4 linked regions of the Homo sapiens genome follow. The protein of the gene in region 2 interacts with the protein of the main gene of each other region in a pairwise test. Each region holds a gene or a part of one and is shown on either strand. Other genes may lie near its edges. The genes, in order: DNAJC30, GPX8, SMAGP and SGMS2.

Region 1 (6,857 bases), on a different chromosome or scaffold from region 2:
AACATAGTAACAATAAATGTTCTTTTAAAAAGTACATATCCCCTTCCCCCAAGTCCAGGCTCACTGAGCCAAACAGGTCTGAACCAGATTGGGCTCAAATCTTTTTTTTCTTTTTCTTTTTTTTTTTTTTTGAGATAGGGTCTAGCTTTGTAGCCCAGGCTGGAATGCAGTGGCAGGATCGCAGCTCACTGCAACCACGACCTCTCAGGCTCAAGCGATTCTCCCACCTTAGCCTCCTGAGTAGCTGGGACTACAGGCACTTGCCACACCCGGCTAATTTTTGTGATTTTTGTAGAGATGGGGTTTTGCCGTGTTGCCCAGGCTGGTCTCCAACTCCTGAGGTCAAGTGATCCACCCGCCTTGGGTGGATCCCAAAGTGTTGTGCCAGGCCCCAGATCTTCATTACTGCATCATATGATCACTGCAAAGCCTGGAGTAGGGGCATACCCCCAACCTCCGAGGCAAGAGACAATCAATGGTTTCCCTTTTTTTTTTTCCTTTTCAGGCTAGATTGGCACAATGATGGAATGGTTTTCAAGAGGCCAAGTAGGACCAGCTGTGGGTTTATCCCATTTTACCTAAGGATTTTACACAATACATTGAGTGCAGGAATGGCACGCAATGATTGCACTCAGTAATATACCAAACCACTCCTGGCTTTGTTTAGACCCTAGACTTGGGCCCTCATCCTTCTCGTAGACCTCTTGCGAGGATTTTCCCCTTTTACAGATTCACACTCAGTCCCGAACAGAAACACTTGAGCACCTACAATCTCACAGCCAACTCCCTGCCAACGTCCAGTGACTCACAGTTAAGAGAGCTTCAGCAGCAGCTCTGACCAAAGTGATGACCAACTACTTAACATGAATTAGAAACAGAGCAGAAAAAACACGCCTTTAGCCTGCTCTGCGTAAAGAACCAAGTCTCCACCATGAACACCAAGCCACCAACTCCCCGTCCCTCAGTAGTCCTGTGTACTCCCAAAGCCCCAAAATTTACCCCAGCCTCAAGCAGCCTTGTTTAAAAAATTAAGGAAGGGCCTGTGATAAGCACTGCAAGTTAAACAGAAACAGGGGACTTAAGTGCAGAGTTTGTCACTCTATTTCTGGGAGGGGATGGGCTGCACAGTGTGCAATGGGGCTGGCTGGTAAAGGGAGGACCAGGTGACAGCCAGCCACACTGTCTCAAGGATGAACCTGGCCCTGCTAGCATTATGCTGTAATCCCTGTGGATTAGAACTATGGATAATAGGGCCGGGAGCAGTGGCTCATGCCTGCAATCCCAGCACTTTGGGAGGCTGGACGGGCAGACAGCCTGAGGTCGGCAGTTCGAGACCTCAGTCTGGCCAGCATGGTGAAACCCCGTATCTACTAAAAATACAAAACACTAGCCAGGTGTGGTGGGAGCCTGTAATCCCAGTTACACAGGAGGCTGAGGCAGGAGAATCGCTTGAACCCGGGAGGTGGAGGTTGCAGTGAGCTAAGATCGCACCACTGCACTCCAGCCTGGGCAACAGAGCGCAAGACTCCATCTCAAAAACAAAACAAAACAAAAAACCCCCCAAAAACTATGGATAATAAAGCATGACAGACCTCAAGATGCCAAATGATTTTCTCCTCTGCTGTCATGCCTACAGAGTAACTTCTCCAAGGTCACACATTAAATATGGGCACAGGAACACTCATTCCTTATGCTCAATGACTTTTTCTCACTCCTACATGCTATCAACATAAGGAGGAGTGCCCCAGGGGGCTGACCTTAGCGGGAGGAACGACAGGCTCTCCACCGATCCCATTCTTACCCTGGACCAGGTCTCACCTGCGGCTTGGGGAAGTCACAGAAAGACAAGTTTCGTACAACCCCAGACCTTTTCTTTTGGTAGTCAACAATTGGTCACATTGCACATTTCAAGGTTACAGAGGCCCACCATACACATGCGGGGCAGGAGGAGATAAATCTTGCTTGGGGCTAAACAATAAAGCTACAGCGAGTGTTCCAGAAGTTGACCACATCTGGAAGCAAGAAGACAGACTCTGGAAGAAGCACCCTAGAGACTCCAGGAACCCCCTTCACTCCTGGGCTTTCGGGACTCTACAGCGTGGGGCCTCTTTCTCAGACATCGAAAGGCCTCCTTTTCTGGACCACAGTGGAGCGATGTGCAGGTCATCGGCTAAGCTGGGCGGGTCGGGGAGGGCAGGGGGAGTACAGTTCCTTCGGATCCCAGCAAAGGTAGACTATCAATGGCCAAGGGTTCAGAGGCAGGAAAAAAGGCCGTTTCTGGGGGGTTGGCTGGGGACACTCCCCTTCCCTTCTCTCTCCGATTAAATATAAAAGCCGATGATGATGAAGATTGAAAAGATGAGGAAAATGGCAGCCGTGTCTCGGGTATCCTCCCAGCGGAGGCCTTTCATGGACCGATACTCCTGCCGTTTGCGAAGGGCCTCCCGCCGGGCCCTCAGGCGCCGTTCCCGCTCCAGTTGTTCCCCGTAGTGGGCCTGGTAGAAGGCGTCAAAGTTGAACATCGTGCGGTTGGCGCCGGGGGAGGCCCGAGAACCGTCGTGGGTCCGAGAGGTGGGCGGCGGGGTACGCGGCGAGCCGGGGTCGGGTGCGGGCGTCCTGGAGGGCCGGACGCCAGGTCCGCGCAGGTCCTCGTCGCTGAGTAGGCCGCGATCATACTTGCGACGGAGGGTGGCACTGCCCAGCACCACGTAGGCCTGGGAGATGCGCGTGAAGCGCTCGGCGGCCTCCGCGCTCCCGGAGTTGCGGTCCGGGTGGTAGAGAAAGCACTGACGGTAGTAAGCCGCCTTGATTTGGGCCTGCGTGGCTGTGGAGGGGACGCCGAGCAGATCATACAGCGCCGTGCGCGAATACGAGCAGTCGCCCTGGGAATAAGTCCTCGCTCCTAGGCCCAGGCTGGGTGCAGAATTTTGTGGAAAGCCACGGGCCTGCAGCAACCTCCAAGGTAACAGCCGCTGCCACCATCGCCAGCGCATGGCTGCCATGTTGAATTGATTCGGCAGGCGGTGCAAGAGAAACCGGCCAATGAGAGGAGTCGGTTGGTCGCCCTGTGGCCAGTCACGTAAAGGGGGGGGCGGGGCGGTCGTGGGGGTGGAACATGCGTATTACTAAGCGGTCGCCGGGCTGATGACATAAAAACCGGGTGCCGGCAGGCGCCAGTCGCAGGTGTGCTGCTGAGGCGTGAGAATGGCGTCCCGCGGCCGGCGTCCGGAGCATGGCGGACCCCCAGAGCTGGTAAGTCCCGGGGCCCGCGGACACCCCTCTCCCCACTTCTGCGGCCACCGCGTCTGAATTATTCCTCTACATGCCATTTTCTCTTTTTCGCAGTTTTATGACGAGACAGAAGCCCGGAAATACGTTCGCAAGTGAGGGGAGCCTGAATACTGCGGGGCGTCCGGGGGTCGGGAAGCGGCAAGTTGCCCCTGTTGCTGGCGTTGCCCGGAAAGGCCGTAGAATTTGGGGGTGCGGGAAGGGAAGGACCCGGGTGGGTGCCGATTTCTGTCTCTGGTAAATCAACTTTAAGTTGCCGACCTCTCTGGGCCTCGGTACCTCAGCGTTGAGGTAGGGGTGATCGCGCTTGCTTTCCGTGGGTGGTTTTCAAAGTCGAATGTGACAATTTGTCCTAAACATGTGGTAAAAGAGGCGCTGGGCGGTGGGTACGGGCGAGGGGTCAGTCCTGGTGGGGGGAAGGAAGTAATGGCCGTAGGATGCTTATCGTGGCGCCTTGTTGCCAATAAATCTCCAAGACAGCAGTTGGTGTATTATTGTCTGAATTTCATAGAGGGTAGTTTGTATAACTACTGAGTTGTAGCCAGGTGGGAGTGGCTCACGCGTGTAATCTCAGCAATCGCAGCACTTTGGGAGGCTGAGGCGGGAGGATCGCTTGAGCTCAGGGGTTCGAGACCAGCCTGGGCAACGTAGCGAGCCCCCGTCTCCGCAAGTAATAAAAAAATTAGCCGGGTGTGGTGGCTCCCCTCTGCCTCTCCAGTAGTTGGGACCACAGGCGCGCGCCACTACGCCTGGCTTTTTTTTGTAAATTTTTGTTGCGATGGGGTCTCGCTGTGTTGCCCAAGGTGGCCCAAGCCCAGGGCTCAAGCGATCCTCCCGCCTTCGTCTCCCGAACTGTTGGGATTGCAGGCGTGAGCCAGCGCACCTCGAGTCGTTAAAAAAAAAAAAAAGGGGGGGGGATGGGGGCGGGGGGAAGCTGGCGCGGTGTCTCACGCCTGTAATCGCAACACTTTGGGAGGCTGAGGCAGACGGATCACCTGAGGTCAGGAGTTCGAGACCAGCCTGGCCAACATGGCGAAACTCCAGCTCTACTAAAAATGGAAAAAATTAGCCGGGCGCGATGGCGGGTTTCTGTAACCCCAGCTACTCGGGAGGCTGAGGCAGGAGAATAGCTTGAACCCGGGAGGGGGAGGTTGCAGTGAGCCGACATCACGGCACTGCACTCCAGCCTGGGCGACAGAGCAAGACTTTGTTTCAAAAAAAAAAAAAAAAAAAAAAAAAAAAAAAAAAAAGATACTTTGTGGTTTTTCCGTGCTCTCTCACTGAGAGACTAGCCCTATTTCAGTAAATGGTTACTGGCCGGGCGCTATGGCTCATACCAGTAATCCCAGCCCTGTGGGAGGCGGAGGTGGACGGATCACCTGAGGTCAGGAATTCCGAGACCAACCTGGCCAGCATGGTGAAATCCCGTCTCTACTGAAAATACAGATATTAGCCGGGCCTACGGGAGGCTGAGGCAGGAGAATCACTTGAACCTGAGAGGCAGAGGTTGCAGTGAGCTGCGATCGCACCACTGCACTCCAGCCTTGGCGACAGAGTGAGACCCTGACTCAATAAATAAATAAATAGCTATTGGATACTGTTTCTTTTTTTTAGGGACAGGGTCTCTCTATTGCCCAGGCTGGAGTGCCATGGCATGATCCCTGCCGACTGCAGCCTCAAGCCATCCTCCCCAGCAGCCGGAACTAGAGGCACTCGCCACCACACCGGCTGAAATAGCTTGATAATTTTTTGTGCGTGTGAGACAGGCTCTCATTCTATCGCCCAGGCCGAAGTGCTGCAGTGGCTGCAACCTCGCCTCCCGGGTAGTTGGAACTACAGGCGCGCCTCCTCGCGCCCGACTAGTTTGTGTAATTTTTTTGTGGAGAGGGAGTTTTGCTATGTTGCCCAGGGATCTGGTAAGTTGCTCACGGGATCCACCCGCCTTGGCCTCCCAAAGTACTGGGATTATAGGCGTGAGCCACCAGGCCCGGTCCTTGCTGATGACTTTTTATGTCGATTATATGTTGAAGTGATATTTTGAACATATTGAGTTAATGGAAATACGTTATTAAATATATGGGGTTAAAAATATGACTCCAGAGGCCGGGCGCGGTGGCTCACGCCTGTAATCCCAGCACTTTGGGAGGCCGAGGCTGGCGGATCACAAGGTCAGGAGATAGAGAAATCCTGGCTAACATGGTGAAACCCCGTCTCTACTGAAAATGCAAAAAAAAAAATTAGCCGGGCGTGGCGGCGGGCGCCTGTAGTCCCAGCTGCTGGGGAAGCTGAGGCAGGAGAATGGCATTAACCCGGGAGGCGGAGCTTGCAGTGAGCCGAGATCGCGCCACTGCACTCCAGCCTGGGCGACAACAGAGCAAGACTCCGTCTCAAAAAAAAAAAAAAATATGACTCCAGTTTCTTTTACCTGTTTCTTTAAGTTTCTTCTTGACTGGCTATTGGGAAGCCATGCGTGGCTCACATTCTGTTTCTCACAGACAGTGCTGCTGTAGGTTTTTGTGCATTGTTGATCCTTCTAGATGAGAGAAACTATGGAGAATAATTTTTGGAGAAAATGTTTTCAACAAGTGCTAGAGCAGCCCAGCCTAATAGAGTTGCAGATCCCAGTGGTTGTTTATTACTAGCTAAGTGATTTGCTTTTACACATCTGCTTGGCAGCTGGTGCAATGATAAGTTGTTACCACAAAATAACATGGTCCTGAATTACATGGAATTTTTGGGGTCACTTTCGAATGGTTGAATTTGTTGATCCCAACTTAGAAGGGGTCAGAAAAGAGTACCTCGGGATGATTGATCCGTTTTTTGTTTGTTTTTAACTTGGCTTTTTTTTGTTTTTTGTTTTTTGGTCTGGGGGAAGTATTCACCCAGAACTCCTTTACCATGTCCACTTGTGTTTCTGCCTTACCAGCTCACGGATGATTGATATCCAGACCAGGATGGCTGGGCGAGCATTGGAGCTTCTTTATCTGCCAGAGAATAAGCCCTGTTACCTGCTGGATATTGGGTGAGATTCTGGGGCCTGGTTCAGATTGTCTAAGGTGGTGAAGTGTCTTTGTAAACTGACCCTGAGTGTCTGGTCATGTCTTCCAGCTGTGGCACTGGGCTGAGTGGAAGTTATCTGTCAGATGAAGGGCACTATTGGGTGGGCCTGGATATCAGCCCTGCCATGCTGGGTAAGTATGTCCTGTCTGGCACCAGGGTGGATTACCCTGATGGGTGTGGAGAAGCCACAGGTATTTCTCTTTCTCTGACTGCCTTTTCTCTAATGTAGATGAGGCTGTGGACCGAGAGATAGAGGGAGACCTGCTGCTGGGGGATATGGGCCAGGGCATCCCATTCAAGCCAGGCACATTTGATGGTTGCATCAGGTGAGGGTCTTTAATTCCTGCTTTTATTTATTTAGAGACAGGGTCTCACTCTATCACTTAGGCTCTAGTGCAGTGTCTGTGATTATGGCTCACACTGCAGCCTCCACCTCCTGGGTTCAGGTGATCTGCCCACCTCAGTCTCCTGAGTAGCTGGGACTACAGGCCCACACCACCGTACCTAGC
Region 2 (7,956 bases):
AAGATTTATGTTCATTTTATTGACTAACATGAGGAAAAATATAATAATTATAACTAAAATTTATGAAGTGCTTACTATGTGCCAGATTAATGTACGCTCCGTGCTTCAAATTGATCCTCTCTTTTAATCTTACAGGGACCCTATGAGGTGGGTATTATTATCATCCCCGTTTTGCAGATGAGATAAATGGAAGCCTAGACACAAGGTCACGTGGCTAATGAGTGGTTGAGCCAGGATTGATATACGGGCCTTTTACTCCAGAGCTCATGCTCTTAACCTTTGGGCTCTATGATCCTTCCTATCTAAGTGGAATGACACCTTAACTCACTGTTACCTTTTTGATTACACAGGCTAAGAAGGGTTTTAGAAGGTTTGTAGTGATAAAGAGAAATAACCTATGAGCTATTGCACCCACGTATCTGGCTGCTGTAACTGAAGAATGATTAGTTCAATGGCATGTGCTTGGGCTTTTCTTTCCTCAGTGGACCTTCAAAATAAGAGGAATAAAGACCTCACTGTGGTTGCCATTTATGGCGTTAGGCATTATATCAACTTTCCCTAGAAATTAAATATAATGTTTTTAGAAGATTCTGACTTCACATTTATGTGAAATATTATAGATCACTATTTGGTTTGTTGGATTAGAAGCTTGATTGCCTGAGTGAGGTAATAGTTTGATCAAAACTCAACTTATTTACAGTGAAAATAGGACTGAAGATGTCATCAGAATAAGTTAGATGAGAGAACATTAGCTAATGTCCTTTATTTATTTATTTAAGATGCAGGCTTGCTCTGTCGCCCAGGCTGGAGTGCAGTAGCGCGATTTCAGCTCACTGCAACCTCTGCCTCTGGGTTCAAGCGATTCTCCTGCCTCAGCCTCCTGAATAGCTGGGATTACAGGTGCCCACCACCACACCTGGCTAATTTTTGTACTATTAATAGAGATGGGGTTTCACCATATTGGCCAGGCTAGTCTCTAACTCCTGACCTTAAGTGATCTGCCTGCCTCGGCCTCCTAAAGTGCTGGGATTACAGGCGTGAGCCACCGCGCCCGGCCTTTTTTTTTTTTTTTTTTTTTTTGACTAATATGGTTTAGAACAGTGTCTGGCACAGAGCAAGCAGTGTATAAGTACTTTATTTTTACTATTAACAGACTTAATTCCAAACAATCTTAAGAAGGCGGTACTATTGATAGCCCATTTTACAAATGAGAAACAGGCACAGAGAAGTTAAGAAGCCACATAGCAAAAACAAAAGAGCAGGGGTTTGAACCCAGGTAGCTTGAGGCCAAAGCCTATGCTGTCTGTATGCCTCATGACCTTTGTGCTAAGTGACCTTGGCAAGTCTTTAAACAGATTTCTGTAGCTAGCTTAATTGGAGAAATAGCCTAACACTACTGCCCTCTGAAAAAACCAAGTTATATGTTTTTGGATTTTAGCAAAAATCTGGTAAGCTGACATATTCATCTTTGAGAATATTGTTTCAGATAAGAAAGACAACATAAAATTAGCCACAAACATATGTTAACTAATAATGCCCAGCACTATTCATGAGAGCTGTGTGGCTATAATGACGGGAAGGGACATTTCTCCAGATGCTAGTTACAAGAGAGGAGAATTAAGATATTTTGTGAAAATAGCCATGGGCACACTTTAAGTAAATTCTTCAGGAAGATGGTAATAAGGAATAAAATATATTGGAATAGAATTCTTTTACCATCTAAGAAGCTAAAACATTGATTTCAGGGGAGCATAACTCCTAGAAGTTACAAAGGATGAGATTCTGGCTCTTTGATGATAGTTTTATGAAGCTTTCCCGATACAACGTTTCAAATGAAATAGGAAAGTATTGTCCTGGTATAATTGTTTAAAAATGAAAAGCAATTTAAAACAGCATATGCAAGGCAGATATTTACCAACAAGAAATCTAAATGCAGGTTCTCCTTCAGATCCTAGAATCTTAATCTTGTGGAAGATGGGGAAAGTTACTCCGTAGTTTTTTCTTGCAAAAGATTCTACTTCCTTGCTTGGGCGGGGCTCCGATTCTCCAAACTGATTGCAGGGAAAAGCCAACACGCTGAAGTGGGATGGTCCAAACTCTTTGTGCAGTTCCTTCAGCCCTAAGTAATTTCTGTCTGTGAGTTGGCAGTCACTGGCCACGTTTACAACTAGTGAAACCTCCCGGAAAAAGAAAAAAATCCAACCGGAAAGTGAAGCAAAAGATTTTAAAAAATTCTGCAAGTAGTTAAAATCCTAAACAATTTGGGGGGGACTATAACCTCTGATTGATGTTTTTTTCATATTTTTGGACATACACAGTTCTATTGAAAACTGTAACCTAGATGCCTGGGTTAAGGCCCTGAAATAGTACTGCCATTAAAAAAGCATTAGATACTCATGAAAGTTTATTTTTAAATTAAAGATAAAACTATGATCCTTGATAAGTTCTTTTTAAAGTTATTAGATTATAGAACCAATACTTTTATTAATAAATGTCATCATGTTCACATTACTAACTATAAGTATTTTCCAAACAACTTTACATGTCAATTCAGCACAAAATTAAAGCATTTTAAAGAAAACGAGATAATCGGAATTTATTATTTAGAAGCAAACTATCAGAACTGTAATAACTAAAGTGATGTACTAATACCATTACTCTGAAGACTAAATTCCAACTTATGACCATGTAACAGCAAAAAATTGATTTTATTAAGAGGAATAAACAGAGACAAGGAAAAATGATAACAATAAAAATCAGATGATGCAACTTACTTTGCCTTTATACTTTTCCAGAGAAACAGTTCTTCCTTTTGCATCCTTCACTTCAAAGGCATAAAAGCTGTTGATTTTAGGTTTGAGGAATTTTAGTTGTAGAAGAAATAGCGTTACTGTGCATAGAACTATAGACAGCAAAACTGCAAATACCTTTGCTCTGGGCCCGGAACATTTTAGCGGGTAAGCTGCAAGAGGCTCCATGTTGGAGGATTCTAGAGGGAAGTCTCAGCAGCCTGGAATTCAAGGAGGAGCTGAAACTTGAAACCGGCTTAGTTTAACGGAAAACCAGGAAGGACAGGCTGACTGCTTTCACTGCTAAGGAACAGAAAGACCACTTCTCAGAGGGGAAATGAAGCGAAACTCCTGAATGAAGCAAGGAGCTCTACAGAATTTCAAAGTATTTGTGATGTAATTATAATTTTTGCTAGAAAAATCAGGACATTTTTGGTAGGTCTTTGACATTCTCCCTACAAAGAAAATATTTCGCCAGAAGATGGTGCTCTTGTAACTCGAAAGCTACGGAGGGCTCATTCCCCATGCTAAGCTGTGTATTTATTGAGCAACTGTTTGGATGCAGAGGATGGAGTACGATGCTCAGCAATAGTTTAGAATGTAGATTAAATGTGACCTACTCATATGGTGTATACCCTGAAGGACGTTACTATTACATGTATGGGTTAAACATGCTATATGAGTTCAGGAAATTTATAGTGGAAAGAGCAGGGAAATATCTGAAAAAGGCTATTTACCCTGATTCATCTAGCTAAGGCAATCAAATACCAAGTGAATACAGTCAAAATAAATATGTTAAAAACAGTGAAGGTGTTAAAAGAAACCCTTCTCTATCATAGAGCAAACTATAGTCCAGTGTTTTTCAAATTTCTACTCATGACCCCCAGTCAGCAGTGCACTTTACAACATAACTGGGTACAAACAACACACAACTGAGAAACAACACTTCTCCTTTGAACTGTGATGCACCCCCACCTGTTGCATTTTTAAACAACCCAGTTCTGACCTATCAAAATGATTTCATCATTCACCGATGCACTACAACCTGTAGATGGAAAAAACTGAGGCCGGGCATGGTGGCTCACGCCTGTAATCCCAGCACTTTGGGAGGCCTAGATGGGAGGATCACTTGAGCCCATGAGTTCAAGACCAACTTGGGCAAGAAAGCGATACCCCTGTCTCTAAAAAAGAATTTTAATTAGCTGGTTGTGGTGGTGCATGGCTGTGGTCCCAGTTATACAGGTGGCAAAGGTGGGAGGATCGCTTGATCCCAGGAGGTTGAGGCTGCAGTGAGTCGTGTTTGTAGACTGCAGCCTGGGTGACAGAGTGAGACTATCTTAAAATCAGAACAAAAGAAGAAGAGGGAAAAAAGCAAAAATTGAACTCGATAATAAAGTAGTAATTTAACAGTTAAATAAGGCAATTCTACCAAAAAAAATCCCTGAAAACAAACAAACCCTGCAAAACCCACCTCTACTTGGGCACGTCATCTAATTGCTTCGTTTTTTCTCTTTATTTCCCTCCCCTGGCTGTTGCCTGGCACAGGGGGCCTAACTTTGCTGTTGCTAACGGTCATGAATTTTAGGGGTAGGTATGGGGAGGCAATTGAGGGCTGTATATCCTAAAAGCCATTCACTTTCAATTCTGCTCTGTTTAAGACTCATGGCAAGATCTGGATGAAGGGGCATTATGCCATTTGATCATGATGTGTTTCCAGAAAGTGCAGGGAATGAGCTGAGATGTTTGTGGAGTGCCCTTCCTGTCACTGTTAGCTTGTGGAGCTTCAGAGAGGGTGCTCAGGGTGCTGCCTGCTCTTCTGGTTCCCGCTCTGTGGCATGTGTGTTTTCGGGTGGCTGAGCAAAGCCCATAGCCTACTGTGTAAAACTTGTGAGAGGAACCGCTCGACTCCTACTCTCATGGCTCAGTAAGAATGGATACAGTAGAAAAAGCAATGATTATGCAGAAAGTATTCCCTTTTAAACATAATTCCTAGTAAAGAACAAAAATGTATGTAAGATGTGTTGTATCACTTCCTGATAATTTTACTTTGGTGTTCTCTGGCTGAATTGTTTAAAAAGTCAAAGTCCCTGTGTTTATATGACATGAACACTGCTATGTTGCTTAAGCTCTCTGGCCTTGCTCTCTAAGTGGGATCTGGGACCTTCCACAGTACCATCACCTGGGCATTTGTTAGAAACACAGCATTTTGGGCCCCACCCCAGACTTCCCGAGTCAGAATCTGTACTTTTACAGGATCTCCTCATGACACATACACACGTTTAAGTTTGAGAACCTTTAGACCTCAAACTTTTTTTGGTTTCAGAGCAACAAGAGTCTTTGGTTTGTCTTTGTTTTCCATAGTGGATGTGTTCATGTCTCTATGAATACACGAGATATTTTAACTCCTCAGGCTGTACAAGCAAATGGCTTAGGAACATGCATTTTAAAATTAATTCATAGAATACCTGCTGTAATTTGAGCCGTGTAAACCCAAGTCATTATAACTGTGTTTTGAGGTGGAAAGAGAGTGATTTATCTTTGGCAGGGATGTTGACTGACCACCGCTTAGGCAGGGCCCCCTAGGGTGATATTATTTTGATAAAATCACTGTGATAGTTTCTAGTCCATTGTATTATAAGTACAGAAACTCTTATCAAGTGATCCAGAGATGAATGGATTTGAAAATGCCAAAATTATGCTGTTACAAACTTGCTTGTGATTGCTGAATAAGCCAGTTTTTACACCAGAAATAAAACATTATGCAGGCCTGATGTTGAGGTTGGTTTCACCACAAAATTCCATATTATATGAATACAACTTTGAAAACTTACGTGTATATCTCCTGTCAAGGATGAAATCAGAGCCAGTTTGTTAATTTAATGTTCCTAAGGCTTAAGAGCTTCAAATAATGAAGGCATGATATATAAATTTTCATACTGACCCATTAACCAAACATTCAGACAGCACTTTGGAGAACTTGTGCGCTGGACAGCATTGGATGAACACAGATTTTGGCCCTGTCACACCTCTTCTTTGTTGTTTTGGCAGTCTTTCTCTGCACACATTTTGATGTCATCATCTCTCAGCCTTCTGGGGATCCACCATTATTGTTTTCATGTTCTGTCTATACTAACTCTATTCTCAGACTATACATATATCAAAATGGCACATTTCTCTGCATAAGGGGTAGTATGTTAGAAAAACCACCAGCGCTCTTTCAGTAAATGAAGGAAGGCTTCTATAGGAGGAGAAGAGATTGATGAGTTCATGATGAAGGCAAGAGGAAGCTACTGGGTCAAGAAGGGCATAAAGTAGTTGACTCAGTTATCAACCAACTCAAGCACTGGAAAGGATACAAATAAGGTGCAAGGGAAGGAGCCAGCCTCATGCAACTGTAAAAGCAATTTTGGAAATATGAGAACACACAAGAAACGGAAGGATTACAAGGCAGTAAATAACTGAGTGCTAAATAAATGACTTATTTTTTTATTTATTATTATTATTTTTTGAGACAGAATCTCACTCTGTCGGCTAGACTGGAGTGCAGTGGTGCAACCTCGGCTCACTGCAACCTCCATCTCTTGGGTTTGAGTGATTCTCCGGCCTCAGCCTCCCGAGTAGCTGGGACTACAGGCACGCGCCAAAATGCCCGGCTAATTTTTGTATTTTTAGTAGTGATGGGGTTTCACCATATTAGTCAGGCTGGTCATGAACTCCTGATCTCGTGAGCTGCCCGCCTCGGCCTCACAAAGTGCTGGGATTACAGGCATGAGCCACCATGCCTGGCCAGTGACTTATGTTTTTAGAGAGCTTTATACTGCACACAATCTTCTTTAGTAGACACATTACCTTCTTCACAGTAATTCTTTGAAATAGGGAGCAGTTAACTCAGCCAAGATCACAGAATTAGTGAATGGAACAATGAAGAATAGAGTTTTGAACTTTCGACTTCATAACCAAAATTATTTCAACTTCATGAAACTGTTTCTGTGTAATAGGTGAATAAATTTATTTAGAAGAAAACATTGTAGGTGAGATGGCTGTAGTACTCTGGTGGAGGGGTCATATGGTTTGGCTGTGTCCCCACCCAAATCTCACCTTGAATTGTAATAATCCCCACATATGAAGGGTGGGGCCAGATGGAGATAACTAAATCATGGGGGTAGTTACCCCTATACTGTTCTTGTGGTAGTGAATAAGTCTCACGAGATCTGATGGTTTTATAAATGGGAGTTCTTCAGCACAAGCTTTTGCCTGCTGCCATGTAAGACATGCCTTTGCTCCTCATTCACCTTCTGCCATGATTGTGAGGACTCCCTAGCCATGTGGAACTGTGAGTCCATTAAATCTCTTTCCTTTATAAATTACCCAGCCTCAGGTATGTCTTTATTAGCAGCATGAGAACAGACTAATACAAGGGGTTTCATTCGTGAGGAGGCATTTTGTTTTATAAGAAATCACTGTATAAGCGCCCAGAAAGGGGAAGGCATGGAGAACACCACCAAAAGGCTTTTCTGTGTGTACTGAAGTTATCTGGAAGGGGCCACGGGAGGTCTGCAGAGCAGCAGGTCCAGATGATAGGCGAAGAGTCTTAGTGAAGGTAGCCTTGGCCAGCATGATGGAAGGAAGGGGGTGGGTGCTAAAGATGCTCTGTAGACCCTGCGGGCAGCTGCTGGCGATAGAGATAAAGGATGATGTTTACCTGAAAATGACCTTGACAGTGTGTGGGTCATATTGCCTACTAGGATGGGAGGGCGTTGAAAGTTCAAACATGAGACGATGAACATTTTGGTCTTCATGACTAATTTGAAATAGTATTGAGACCCTACATTTGAAACATCTTGTGGACAGAATGCTGCTGCATTGGGCTGGTGGTGGGTGGGAGCGGCACACACTCAGAGGTTAAGGAACGGGGTTGGGGTATGCTTCAGAGCTACCTGGGCTGTCTTTGCTACTTTTATCTTTCTCTTGAGGTTCTAGCAAGACTAGCATCGCCAGCAGGTCTTTTCTGGGATGTCTAGGTTTTTCCAACCCACTGGATATTTGTGTGTCAAATTATTTGTCAGTAGACATATTTGTTTCTATTTTCTCAGTTGTTTCATTCTGCTACTTCCTGACCTTATTTTTAACCCCTCTGGGTCCTTTTCTAATTATTTTTGGCACTGGT
Region 3 (7,032 bases), on a different chromosome or scaffold from region 2:
GGAACAGGAAATGGCTTATCCTAACAGGAAGTGGTTTATCTGATCCTCCCCCTCTTCCTCACCCACTCAACCAACCACATATATCCTCGTCCCTACCCACGTACTCAAGTGTAACGTCCGTATGCATATCTATTTGCGGCCACCTCCCAACCTGTCATTTACTGGTAGTGCCTCTGACAGAAGCCTCCGAGTCTTTTATGGCTGTGTGTGTGTGTGTGTGTGTGTGTGTGTGTGTGTAATATAACTTACAAGCCAGAGTGAGCCCATTAATGGATTTGGTCAGGCTCCCTCTGGAGAGAGATGCCCTTGATCCAGAAGGTCCCTTGGAGTTGGCTCAGAGTCTATTACCTGCAATGAGTGCTGTGCTGGCTCCATCTTCTGGGGACAGGGCCTCAGTGGGCTGTAAAATTGGGGTGGTCATCAGTTCTTCTGGAAAATGTAGAAAAGTGGAAAAGGAAATGGAGTGAATTCTTTTGTTTGAAAGCATATGTTTGGCCTTCAAATTTCACCACCCCACCTTCTTCCCTATTCAAAAGTTTATCATTTAACTCCTAGAGTATATCCAAATAGAAAATCCTAGAGAATAAAGAAGAAAATAAACCACCACCCAAAGACAATATGTTGATGGATTTCTCCCTGCATAATATAGTGATTAAGAGTAGGGGCTATAGAGCCTGACAGACTGGGTTTCAAATATGAACTCTGTCCTTTACTAGCTGTGTGACCTTGGGAAAATTACCTAACCTCTATCTGCAAAATGGAGGTAAGAGTACCTACTTTAAAACGTTGTTGTGACATTTAATAAGTCACTCAGTAGGATAAGCCATTATTAGGAATGCATATTTTTACAATAAGTGAGATCAAATGAGTTGTATGTGTATATATTTACATTATATTATATAGCATGTGCATTTTCTTGCAGCATTCTTACTAATTCTTTGTAAACATTATTTTAACATAATGAAATAGTGCTCCTCTCCTATTAAAAACCCTTTTCTACACTTCCAGGATAGGCCCTGCAATTTGAAAGGTTCTGAAACAGGCCTCTCCTCTACCCTAAAATAGATCCTGCACCCCCTCCTGCTACGGGTTTATTTATCCTTCAGAGCGTGAAAGTCCCACCCTAAAGTCATTACCCAGGGACAGAACATGACAAAATGAGTGGTCTCCAGAAGTCCCTTTTAAGTGTTTACACAGGAAGTCAGGAAGCCCTTCCATTCTTTCCTATTAGCATTTTAATGTAGAGGTTACTGCAGGATAGAGGTCTCCTGGGGAAAACCAGCTGGCTGATCCTGGCAACACCCACAGGAGGCACCCCGACCTGACTGGCATCCCATAAACAGCAACACTCACCCACTGCCTCCTCTTTGCTAGGCCCTGTGCTAGATGAAAGGTCGAGCAAAACAGACACGGCCAGCTTCCCGAGGCTCACCCTCCACTGCACCCCACAGCTTGCACGGTGAGGAGCTGCTGTAAGTGCACTTAGGAAAGTGTGCAGCCGAGGGGCCTGATCTAGTCTTCCAGCCAGAAGCGACCCCCCAAGGGAGGAATATCTGACCTGGGAGCTGAAGCAGGGGTAAGAGTTTACCGGGTAACAGGGATGGGGCACATTCTAGGCAGAGAGAAGAGCCTGGGTCAAAGCTCTGAGACCAGGGGACTCAAAGGCCAGCGTGGCCCGAGCGCGGTGTGAGCATGACTCCCGTCCAGTGCCTGACACGTTCAGGTTTCCATCCACAGCAAGTGAAATGAGGGTATCAGTGGTGGTCTGGTGGGCCTATGCTAAGAGGGGCCAAGAGTGTTGAAGGGTCTTTCCACGCGGGCCCAGGGGAGCCTGATGAACCATCCTCATCTTGCAATACAGAAAGCAGAGGCAGGCTGTCCAGAGCGCTTCCTCTCCCAAGGCCAGGCCAAACCTTTCTCTCTGGTCCCCTCTTTGTCTAGGAATGGTAGTACCCTCAACCACTCTGGCCTTGGGCGAATGGTTACTGTGGTGTTTTACACACACACACACACACACACACACACACACACACTCTCTCTCTCTCTCTCTCTCTCTCTCTCTCTCTCTCTCTCTAGGTTTTCATCCAGTTCCTGGCTCCTAATTCCCACAGCCCGTTAGCCTTGTGTTATGATGTGGGTGTGTCACACCGCAGGAGCGGGCCTCAGGAAACAGCATCTCTCCAGCCTTCTCCTGCCCTTCCCTTCACCTGCCCCAAGGCAGGACTCTAATCTTCCTCTGCCTTTCCCATAGTGGGTCATAAGATCCTCATTCCAGAGGGAGAATTTGGGAAGGGAATGCTGACATCATGAAGCTTCCATTAAAAACCCAAGAGGACTGGCCTCAGAAAGCTTCCGCATAGTTGAACATGGCTGGACATGGTGGCTCATGCCTGTAATCCCAGCCCTTTGGGAGGCCAGGGTGGGTGATTTCCTGAGCCCAGGAATTTGAGACCAGCCTGGGAAACATGGCGAAATCCTGTCTCTACCAAAAATACCACAAAAAAAAAAAAAAAAAAAAAAAAAAAAAAATAGCCAAGTATGGTGGTGTGCACCTGTAATCCCAGCTACTTGGGAGGCTGAGGAATGAGAATCGCTTGAGCCCAGGAGGTGGAGGTCGCAGTGAGCTGAGATCGCGCCACTGAACTCCAACCTGGGGGATAGAATGAGACCCCATCCAAAAACAAAAACAAAAACAAAACCCCAAAAACAACTAGCTGAACATGCAGAAGTTCCCGGAGGGTGACGCACCAGGGAGGGCGTGGAAGCTCCGCCCCCCTCCCCACACCTCACCCTACACATGTCCTCATTTGTATCCTTTGCAATGTCCTTTATAATAAACCAGTAAACACATTGTTTCCCTGAGTTCTGTGAGCTACTCCAGCAAATTAATTGAACTCCAAAGCAGGGGTTGGCAGGGGTGGGAACTCCAACTTGAAGCTGGTTGGTCACAAGTTTTGGAGCCTGGACTTGTGACTAGTGTCTGAAGGGAGCTGCAGCCTTGGGGGCCCAGACCTTGGCCTGTGGTATCTGACACTATCTCTAGGTAGATAGTGTCAGAATTGAATTGGAAGACACCCTCTTGGTGTCTGCTGTGGAACTGCTTGCTTGCTTGCTGGTGCAGAGAAATTCTCAAATATTTTGGGGTCACAGAAGTCTTCTGTGTCAACTGTTGTGAGAGCTGAGGAAAAATGGTTTTAGAGTTTGTCTAGAACAGTTATACATTTTTTTTTTTTAAGATGGAGTCTTGCTCCATTGCCCAGGCTGGAGTGCAGTGGCGCAATCTCGGCTCACTGCAACTTCCACCTCCTGGCTCAAGCGATTCTTCTGCCTCAGCCTCCTGAGTAGCTGGGATTACAGGTGTGTGCCACCATGCCCAGTTAATTTTTGTATTTTCAGTAGAGACAGGGTTTCACCATGTTGGCCAGGCTGGTCTCGAACTCCTGGCCTCGAGTGATCCACCTGCCTCGGCCTCCCAAAGTGCTGGGATTACAGGTGTGAGCCACTGTGCCTCGCCTATACATATGGATTCATTCATCCATTCTCATCTGTTACCCACAGGAACTATATTAACCAACATTGCAGTTCTATTATGAAGATTAAATGAGAGAACATGTAAACATCATATAGTAGCTACTACTTAAATATTATTTAAGGTGACTTTGTTAATATGCTTAGTGATTAAAAGGGCCAGGCATGGTGGCTCATGCCTGTAATCCCAGCACTTTGGGAGACCAAGGTGGGAAGATCGCTTGAGGCCAGGAGTTTGAGACCAGCCTGGGCAACACAGTAAGACTCTGTCTACAAAAAAAAAAAAAAAAAAAATGTAAAAATTAGCCAGGTGTGGTAATATGCGCCTGTAGTCCCAGATACTCATGAGGCTGAAGTGGGAAGATTGCTTGAGCCCAGGGGGTTAAGCCTGCAATGAGCCAGCACTGCATTACTGAATTGTTGGGCAACAGAGTAATGAGACCCTGTCTCAAAAAAATAAATTAATTAAAGGGAGAGTTGCTCTGGGTTTGAATCCTGCCTAAGCATATTACTAGGTGACCTTGAGGAAGTTACTAAACCTCTCTGAACCTGGTTGTTGTTGTTGTTGTGTTTTTTTTTTGTTTTTTTTTTGTTGTTGTTGTTGAGACAAGGATCTCACTATGTTGCTCAGGCTGGAGTGCAATGGTGCAATCTTGGCTCACTGCGGCCTCAACCTCCTGACCTCAAGCAATCTTCCTGCCTTGGCCTCCCAAAATGCTGGGATTATAAGCGTGTGCCACCACACCTGGCAGTACCTCAGTTTCTTGATTTGTGAAATGGGAGTGTGGTGTACAGCTTCTAAGATGGCTCACAATGATTTCTGCCTCCTGGTATTGACATCTTTGAGCATGCCTCTCCTCTGGTATATGGGTTGAACCTGGTGACTTGCTTTTAACAGATGATGGCAAAAATGATGGCATGTAACTTCTGAGATTAGGTTATACAACACTGTGACTCCCATCAAAGGGAAGCCCTGAAGTTTATCTACCTGGTCATGACTTCACACATTTCACCATGCACTTTCCTCCCCAAATCGCCCAGGGCTGCAATCCATCTTCCTACCATGGATCTAGAGTTCTATACAGTTGTTCCTAGTTTTGCTTTCTTTAAACATTTTGAGAATTTAGGATGTACAAAGCATTGAGAAGATTAATGTATATCAGAAGCTTGAAGATGAGTAATTTGTGTTCAATCATCAACAGTAACTTACTTTGTACATTAGGTTTAGTGTGGTAGCTCACGCCTGTAATCCCAACACTTTGGGAGGCGGAGGCAGGAGGATTGCTTGAGGCCAGGAGTTTGAGACTAATCTGGACAATATAGCAAGACACCATCTCTATTTGTTTTTTAAAAATAATATATGGAGGAGGCTGGGTGCAGTGGCTCACGCCTGTAATTCCAGCACCTTGGGAGGCCAAGGCAGGTGGATCGCTTGAGCCCAGGAGTTGGAGACCAGCCTGGGCAACATAGCCAGACTCCCATCTCTACAAAAAAAAAAAAAAAAAAAAAGTTAGCCAGACATGGTGGCACACACCTGTAGTCCCAGCTACTCGGTAAACTTGAGGTGAGAGGATCACTGGAGCCCAGGAGGTCCAGGCTGCAGTGAGCTGTGATTGTGCCACTGTACTCTAGTCTGGGTGACAGAGTGAGACCCTGTTTCAGAAAAAAAAAAAAAAAGAATAAAGGTGGGAGGAAACCAGATGATCACAATTAAATACAGACAGTTGTGCTACAAAGTGCTTCTTTAACATGAACTGGCTCACTGGTGATAGGTAACTTAAGGGAACGATGTCAGTGTAATGCAGAAGTCATGTTGGTTTATATGTGACTTCTTTATTTTTAGTTTATTTTCAGTTATCTATTCTTTAATTTTTTTAAATTGAGCAGCCCCTAGAACCAAAAGAGGTTCAGAGGACTCCCCACCCTCTTTAGCTTTAATGTTTAACATGATCAGAAGCAAGCTTTCTCACAACTAGAGAATATTTTAGCCATACAGGAAGACCTTAAGAAAAAAATTCTACAGAATGCCTTGCTGCGATGCAGCTATTGGTCAGTTTCCACTTATATGAAGCCATCTGGTGAAGCAGAAAGTGCAGATGAAGAAAGGTGCAAAGAAATTTACCTCAATATTTAAACGATGACAAGAAGGCAGACTCTACATCAGATTTTTTTTTTTTTTTCCAGACAGAGTCTCGCTCTGTCACCCAGGCTGGAGTGCAGTGGCGCGATGTTGGCTCACTGCAACCTCTGTCTCCCAGGTTCTAGCGATTCTCCTGCCTCAGCCTCCCGAGTAGCTGGGACTACAGGCGCATGTCACCACGCCCGGCTAATTTTTTGTATTTTTTAGTAGAGACGGGGTTTCACCATATTAGCCAGGATGGTCTTGATCTCCTGACCTCGTGATCTGCCCGCCTCGGCCTCCCAAAGTGCTGGGATTACAGGTATGAGCCACTGTGCCCGGCCTATTATTATTATTTTTGAGGCCAAGTCTCACTGTGTCACCCAGGCTGGAGTGCAGTGGCTTCATCTCGGCTCACTGCAACCTCCGCCCCCTGGGTTCAAGCAATTCTCCTGCCTCAGCCTCCCAAGTAGCTGGAATTACAGGCATGTGCCACCACACCCGGCTAATTTTTGTATTTTTTAGTAGAGACAGTTTTGCCATGTTGGCCAGGCTGGTCTCAGACTCCTGACCTCAGGTGATCCGCCCTCCTCAGCCTCCCAAAGTGTTGGGATTACAGGCGTGAGCCACATCGCCCCCCGAAGGACAATTTAAAAAGCATTATATTTGCAACAAGAACAAAGAAAAAGCTAGGCTTCTTTGGGCCTGAGGGGTCAGGTTGGAGGTAACAGAGAAAGCAGAATTCCCTCAGGCCTTTTCACCTCTGTTTCCTATCAAAGAGAATCATTTTTTTGCACTAAGGAGCAGTGGAGCCTTTGGGGACATGGGGGAAGTGAGCTCAAGAGAAGCAAAGAAACCCAGCAAGCACCAGACTAATCTAAAAGGGACCAGATATGACAGCCAAAGGCACTGCAAGAACTTGTAAATGGGATTTCTGTTGGTGACATAGGAGCTTCTGAGAAAGAGAAAGGGGTCGGGAACCTGAAGGGGCCATGGAAGGAAGGTGGAGTCCATAAAGCAATGGTGAGCTTGATGTGACTCCCCAGCAAAGTTCTAGAACACACTATTACGGCCTGTTTGGGGGGCTTTGAACTCGAAACAGCAAGCATTAGAAGTCAGAATGGGACTACTGAGAGCAAGCTGGGTCAGATAAGCTGCACAGCCTTCTTAGACTGAGATTCCAGGTTCCTAGACAGGGAAATTAAACAGTTAGTTCAACAAGAATTTACTGAGTGTGTACTCTGTGCCAGGCTCTGGGCTTCTATCAGTGAACAACACAGGCAAAAACCCTTACCTTTAAAGTTCCTGCCAGGATTAAACAGAATTACCCAGCAATCTCATTGCTGGGTGGGTATGATCCCGCAATCCCACTTCTAGGTATATAC
Region 4 (7,268 bases), on a different chromosome or scaffold from region 2:
TGGAGTGCAGTGACGCAATCTCAGCTCACTGCAACCTCCACCTCCCAGGTTCAAGCGATTCTCCTGCGTCAGCCTCCCGAGTATCTGGGACTACAGGCGAGCACCAACATGCCCGGCTAATTTTTCTATTTTTAGTAGAGATGGAGTTTTACCATATTGGCCAGGCTGCTCTTGAACTTCTGACGTCAAGTGATCTGCCTGCCTCGGCCTCCCAAAGTGCTGGAATTACAGGTGTGAGCCACTGCACCCAGCCACACAGCAAATATATCTCAGTTGAGCTGAGCTGACCCTTCAGATTTCATTTAAACAAGCTTGCTTTGAATATTTAAAATTATTTAAACTGAAGAGCTATCACTTGTCCGTAATATTTTACTGTGTAAAGCAAGGCATACTTTTATTATTCGGCCTCATAAAGAATTTACGAGCCCCTATTCAAGACCATTCAGAATGCCACCAGATCTCTTATTATCAGTGGGAGGCAGCCTATGACGGCCTAATCACTTCTTGTCTCTTCCCAAGTCCCCAGCACTCTCCTTTTTTGACTCCTTTTTTCCCCTCTTGATAATCACAGCCTGAGGTCTCTACTGGACTATAAGCTTTGGGGTAGCAACTATCTCCTTCGTTTGCATTGCTGGCCCCTAGCACAGTGGCTGTTATGTAGTTGTTGCATACTAAACGTTAAGCAAATAAATATCTGATACTAGTAGTTCAAGACAAAGCCTTCAATTTCTCCATTGAGACAACACGCTAAAGGTGGGTAAGTCATTGTTTAGTCTAAAACTGTCCAAAACTCTCAGTAATTATTCCTTTAAAAAAGAAACATCTCACCTCAAAGCATCACTTTTAAAAAAAGTTCTCACTGATACTCCATTGTCTATTTTAATAGTTCTAAGATTATTTCTATTTTTCCCCTATATTTTGTTTAAAGTCCCACAAAAATCCCAAAGAGTTTAAGTAAACTTGCTCAAAGGAACACAGCTCAGAGAGCCTCAGGTCTCCTGGATTCCCATGTCCATGATCTCACTACACGGTACTGTCGTAGGACAGCTCCCAGATCTTTCACCCTGTAAGTTGTTATAGTTATGGTAAGAGCAAATGTCTTCAATAACGTGCACAAGTGCTAAAGTTTCTTCCAAACATTTCCTAGGGCTTTTATGAGATTCTGCGAGGGGAGAAACTCAGAACAAGGTGCAGCCACCTCAAGGTGTCCAAGTGTTTCCCTCTAGGTTCACAAGTCAACTAGCTTTACTTAAAAATGAAACCAAAGGAACCAAATTAAACATTAACTTGTTAAAAAAAAAAACACTTCAACCAGACTATTGTGAAGTAAGAACATTAGAAGACCAAGGAAAGGGCCATAAAGAGGAAATTTTGCACTGCTTGCACTGCTTCTTTAGGAAAAAAAAAAGGTAAAGGTAAAGTTAGCTTCCTCACGTCCTTTCTTCCTGTAAATTCCAGGTTGTCACTTTCAGCCATTGCTCTGACATTGTTTAAACAGTAAATGGCAGTTCCCATGACACAGGATGGAAACCATAACCTTCTCAGGTATCCGTACTAAAAATGTTTAACTTGCTGAAAACATCACTTCCCAATCTAAGGAACTTGCCAAAGGATTTCACATGCTAACCCTCGGCCCACCAGGCTTATAAGGAGGACATTCTGTGGAAATTAATTGGTTATTACCTAAGCCAGCTGCAACACACTATTATTTATATATAAACAGCTATAATTTGTTGGGGTCTGCTTTGTACCAGACATTATGAGAAGTCTTTTGCGCTTTAATCCTCATTATTATCCTCATTATTAATCCTTATTTAATCCACCTTATTATCTGAAGTAGCTATAATCCCATTTTACTGGTTCAGAATGTTTAATGTGCCTGAGCACCCACCGTTAATAGAGGAGACTGGTAATGAAACCAAGGATTTGAAAAGTTAGGTACAGATTGAAAACCCACGCCGAATCCAGTGACACTAAACAGTTGAATCTCTTCAAAATATAACACACATGTCAAAATGATTTTAAGGTCATTTCAGAGCAGGCAAGACTTGAAATAGAGGACCGGCAACATTAATAAATAAAAAAGACTACAGGACATAACATTTTGAGTTGGTTTCAAGCCGTGGATAATTAATGATTATCCATACCTCTGGATGGATGTTGACAGGGGTTCCCCGCCCCTTATTTTCGCTGAGAAACCAAGTCTTCCCTTCCGTAAAGGGAGCAGCTCTGGAATGCCACACGTTGAAGGGTTTCGGTGTGGGCTGCCCAGAGCTGGGCTGTTACTGTTCACACATCATCAGTAAGTGCCTCTCAAAAAAAAAAAAAAAAAAAAAGAGAAAGAAAAGAAAAACCACACACACAAACACACACACACAGTCCCTCCTCCACCAACTGAACTTCAGCCCTGACCTCCGGAGTGGTTCTGGACAATCTGGGGTTTAACCTGTGCCCTTCCAACGCCAGGACCGGGGTACCCGAAATGGGTTGCAAATGAATGAGATGACTGCTCAGAGGAAGGAGACTAAGGCACACATCTCTCCTCCAGACCACAAAATCGAGGAAGCATGCCCTGGGCGGGGAGGGTGGGGGCCGGATTAGAGCCACGTCCCCGCTTCGCAATCCACCTTTCCCCTCCCGCGCTTCGGAGGACTCTCCGCTCCCCAGCCCATCCTCCTCCTGGCCCCTCCGCGCGCTCCTTACCCGCTGGTGGCCAGGGCTCCAGACACTCCCAGCTGAAGGCACTTGCTCCCGGGAAGGGGATTTGCCAGGGGATGGAGCCCGCTGCCGCAGCCGCCGCGACCAGCCCCGGGCGTCACCACCCTCGGGCCGAAGCCGCTAGAAAGTTTGCTCGGGGTCTCGCCCTCCCACGCCGCGGCCTGACTAGGGGAAGCAGCTCTCCGGGTCCCTCCCGCGGCCGCCGCCCCCGAGGCCGCACTCGGCGGCGCTGCAGCACCGGCCAGGCTCCGTGCGCGCCGAGGGCTGGGTCTCCCCGCCCCACTCGGCCCACGGCGCGGCGCTCAGTGTTGACCGCGGCCCCGCGCCCGCTCTCCCCGCCCGCCGCGCGCGGCCCGCTCCCTGCGCCCTGCGCCCAGCGCGCTCTTGACATCATTCATTCTCTCACACCCTCGCCCGCCCACTCCATTTCCAAACAGTGACTCACCCGTCGGCCCGGTGGCAGCAGTGCCCGTTCCTGCTGCCGTGGCTCTCCTGGCGCAGAGTGGAGCTCGAAAAACCTGCGCGACTTCTTAAGAAGAAAATCCCAGCCGACTCTCCCCTCGCGGCTGTTTAAGGTGCAGAGAAGGAGGGGCTTGGCAGGCAGGGCAGTTTGGCTCCCGGCCGAAAGGCTGAGGGCCTGGAGCTGACCTCCCTGAGCGGCAACAGAGATCAATCTGGGAAAGTTCTTTGGGTGCCACTCCCAGCAACTTTCAGGGGTGGGGCTGGAACGGGATCCCCCACCCCCGCACCCGGCCTGTTTCGGAAACTGCTTCCTGACGGCGTGTGAGTGGGCTTGGGAGCGCCAGCGTTGATTCAGAGGGTTTATCGGTGTTGACCGGGCCTAGGTCAAAGAGGTGGGTTTCCAAACCTCACAGCGTTGCCTGGCAAGGTTAGTCATCAGTCCGCATGGTATGAGCTGGAAGGTTGCTCCAAGCTAATGAGGTGGCAGCACTGTCCCTTTCGTGCCTAACCATCGTGTCATTTGTCCTGTTAATTGATTTACTTCTCACTTAAGGAATCGTAACCAAAATAAACAGTGTAAGTAGTTATTTGCTTAACTGAATACTGCGCTTTTCCGCAGCTTTTGGGGCCCAAGGCAGCCGTGTGGTTTCTTCGAAGGCCTCAGTAGTTTTTTAAAAGGGGGATTGCTGTCTTTAAAATGGTAATGGTTCTACATTGTCCTGGAGTTGCTATTCATACACCTGCTGGGCAGTTTTCAAAGTAAACGATGGCAGCCTCAAGGACTCTAACTAGGAATGACCAATCCGAGGGAATGTGGCTAAATCTTTCTTGACATAAGTTTTACATTAATGTCTCCTTCTGGACAAGATAATTATGTTTAGGATTTGCGCTGGTTTATGGGTGCTTCCATATAATCAACAAAAATAATGACGGGAATCTTTGGGTTTCTAGTGCAGATATCATGTGGGTCAACAGTCATTTGTGGCTATTAAAGATGATGGTAACAGAAAAGAATATACAAGGCAGGCAATCCCCAAACTCGCAACTTCAAGATGTCGTCACAGTACAGGCAACCAAAGAAAATGGACAAATGGGATCATATTAAGCTAAAAAGCTTCTGCACAGCAAAGGAAACAAACTGAAGAGACAACCCACAGAATGGGAACTATCCATCTGACAAGGGATTAATAACCAGAATATATGAGGAGCTCCAACAACTCTATAGGAAAAAAAAATCTAATAGTCCGAGTAATAAATGGGCAAAAGATTTGAATAGACATTTCTCAAAAGAAGACATACAAATAGCAAACAGGTATATGAAAAGGTGCTCAGGCAATAAATACTGGCGAGGTTGTGGAAAAAAAAAGGAACCCTTGTGTTTGTGGGAATGTAAAAAGTATAACCACTATGGAGAACAGTATGGAAGTTCCTCATAAAACTAAAAATAGAGATACCGTATGACCTAGCAATCTCACTGCTAGGTATATATGCCCAAAAAAGGAAATCAGTGTATCAAAGAGATACCTGCACTCCTATGTTTATTGCAGCACTACTCACAATAGCCAAGGTTTGGAAGCAACCTAAGTGTCCATCAACAGATGAATGGATAAATCGTTACATATACCCATGGAGTACTATTCAGCCATAACAAAGAATGAGATCCTGGCATTTGCAACAACATAGATGGAACTAGAGGTCATTATGTTAAGTGAAATAAGCCAGGCACAGAAAGACAAATTTCACATGTTCTCACTTATTCATGGGAGCTAACATTTAAAACAATTGAACTCATGGAGACAGTAGAATGATGGTTACCAGAGGCTGGGAAGGGTAGGGGGGATGGGTAATGGGTAAAAAATATATATATAGTTAGATAGAATGAATAAGGTATAGTATTTGATAGCAAAACAGGGCAACTACAGGCAACAGTAATTGTGCATTTTAAAATAACTAAGAATATAATTGGTTTGTAACATAAAGAAAGGATAAATGTTTGAGATGGTAGATATCCCATTTACTCTGATGTGATTATTATGCATTATGTGCCTATATCAAAATATTGTGTGTACCCCATAAATATACCTACTATGTACCTACAAAAATTAAATTTAAAAAAATTTTTTTGAGATGGAGTCTTGCTCTGTCGCCTGGGCTGGAGTGCAGTGGCTTAATCTCAGCTCACTGCAACCTCCACCTCCTGGGTTCAAGCAATTCTCCTGCCTCAGCCTCCCGAGTAGCTGGGATTACAGGTGTGTGCCACCAACCCTGGCTAATTTTTGTATTTTTAGCAGAGACAGGGTCTCAACATGTTAGTCAGGCTGTTCTCGAACTCTTGACCTTGCGATCCACCCTTCTCGGCCTCGCAAAGTGCTGGGATTTACAGACATGAGCCACTGTGCCCGGTCCCCCCAAATTTTTAAAATATAAAACCAAAAAAAGATGTTGTCACAATACAGAAGTTTCCCCCAAATGAAAATGCTCCTAAAATTAACCAAGGGCTCAACATCATTGTTGTGGAAAATGGACTCTTTTAGAGCTACTTTTAAAGGTTAGAACCCAGAGGAGACCACCAATCGAAAGTTATTGTCCTGGGGTTTATTTTTCCCCTTCAATAAGGAGCTCATTTTCAAATTTACAAAGCCCAGGCATTTTGCCCAGAAGGCAATAGCAAATGGATTGGTTTGCTAGGATGCAGTCAAAATTCAAATCAGCAGTTTTTATAGACAATCACAGAGCTAATTCAGAAGCATGGGTGTCCTATCCATTGGTAACACTGAATGACTAGATTCAAATGTATAGCCATCTATAAGTAAGTTTGCGTGAATATCCCACCTACTCCCTACTTCATGATCCAAATATTTGGACATTATGGGATAAGTCTAAATACAATTTTCTACAGATCTCAATTGATATTGTGGGCTTTTTGGCCTGTGTACATGGATAAAGTCAAAAAGCTCCAAACAAAGCTTGCAGTTCTGCCTGCACTGTTGGCTGATATAAACCCTGTAGTTCCCTCATAAGCCTCTGTGTGGAAGGCTGTTGAATGGGTAGTTTTGAATTAGTGGTTACTATTGTGCCTCAGTTTAAATATTGTGAAATAAGTAATTAGGTCATTTTATTATACCATTTAAATATCCCCAAGTACATATATTAAATAATATAATTGATAATGGATGATACGAAGTTTTTTCAATCTATTCATTATCAACATATGAGAAAGCAAATTACTCATCTTAATTTCTATGTTTTAAGAAATAGTAACATCCTTTTCACAGAAAGATGATTTTTTTTTTGTTTTTTAACTGCACCTTTTGTTCTTACCATGTATGAAAAGTGACAAAATTTGCAATTCATCACCTTTCAAAAATAATGGCACTGAGTGTTTCAAGGGAGAGAAATGGATGATAGATAAGTGTGTTCTTGTCCATTGTTTTCTCCAAGGCAGCATAAATCAAGTTTTACAGGTATTTCTTTGATTTGATAAAACATACTGATTTAGGAAAACATGTAGATCTATAGTACTTATTTCCTCTTACAGTAACTCGAATCTGAACATATCTAAAGTCATTTGCTCAACCCACAAATTTGTATTGAATTCCTACTTTGTGCCCATGGCTGTTTATCTAAGAATCTCCATGGTCCGGGCACAGTGGCTCATGGCTATAATCCTAGCACTTTGGGAGGCCAAGGCAGGCAGATCACGTCAGGCCAGGAGTTCAAGACCAACCTGGCCAACATAGTGAAACCCCGTCTATACTAAAAATACAAAAAATTAGCCAGGCATGGTAGCACATGCCTGTAATCCCAGCTACTCAGGAGGCTGAGGCATGAAAATCGCTGGACCCTGGGAGGGGGAGTTTGCAATGAGCTAAGATCCTTTCACTGCACTCCAGCCTAGGCAACAGAGCGAGACTCTGTCTCAAAAGAAAATAAAAAAGAAAAAGAAAAAGAATCACCATGTTACCTTCTAAACGAACATATGTCTCAGGAATTGAAAGGTTTTTCTTTTTTTAATTTTGCATGAGGATGTTTATTGCAGGATTTGCAGATCAGTTGGGATATGAGGATGAAGCCAAAGATGACTTCTA

What was found.
Region 1: the proteins of GPX8 (region 2) and DNAJC30 interact in binary tests that used the Homo sapiens proteins (3 or more experiments, as listed by UniProt).
Region 3: the proteins of GPX8 (region 2) and SMAGP interact in binary tests that used the Homo sapiens proteins (3 or more experiments, as listed by UniProt).
Region 4: the proteins of GPX8 (region 2) and SGMS2 interact in binary tests that used the Homo sapiens proteins (3 or more experiments, as listed by UniProt).

What each region holds. Positions count from the first base shown.
Region 1 is NC_000007.14:73,680,422-73,687,278, forward strand, and holds DNAJC30 (dnaJ homolog subfamily C member 30, mitochondrial precursor), read right to left. Parts: upstream 3,033-6,857; 5' UTR 3,003-3,032; coding exon 2,322-3,002; 3' UTR 497-2,321; downstream 1-496. Other genes in the region: BUD23 (18S rRNA (guanine-N(7))-methyltransferase), read left to right, coding at 3,233-3,252, 3,346-3,480, 6,215-6,310, 6,397-6,479, 6,578-6,674. UniProt on the Homo sapiens protein: Mitochondrial protein enriched in neurons that acts as a regulator of mitochondrial respiration. Associates with the ATP synthase complex and facilitates ATP synthesis.
Region 2 is NC_000005.10:55,155,215-55,163,170, reverse strand, and holds the start of GPX8 (probable glutathione peroxidase 8), read right to left. Parts: upstream 3,001-7,956; 5' UTR 2,979-3,000; coding exon 2,775-2,978; intron 2,181-2,774; coding exon of another isoform or gene 2,178-2,180; coding exon 1,916-2,177; intron 1-1,915.
Region 3 is NC_000012.12:51,246,403-51,253,434, forward strand, and holds part of SMAGP (small cell adhesion glycoprotein), read right to left. Parts: intron 430-7,032; coding exon 349-429; intron 316-348; exon of another isoform or gene 1-315. UniProt on the Homo sapiens protein: May play a role in epithelial cell-cell contacts. May play a role in tumor invasiveness and metastasis formation.
Region 4 is NC_000004.12:107,820,689-107,827,956, reverse strand, and holds the start of SGMS2 (phosphatidylcholine:ceramide cholinephosphotransferase 2), read right to left. Parts: upstream 3,026-7,268; 5' UTR 2,704-3,025; intron 2,286-2,703; exon of another isoform or gene 2,148-2,285; intron 1-2,147. UniProt on the Homo sapiens protein: Sphingomyelin synthase that primarily contributes to sphingomyelin synthesis and homeostasis at the plasma membrane.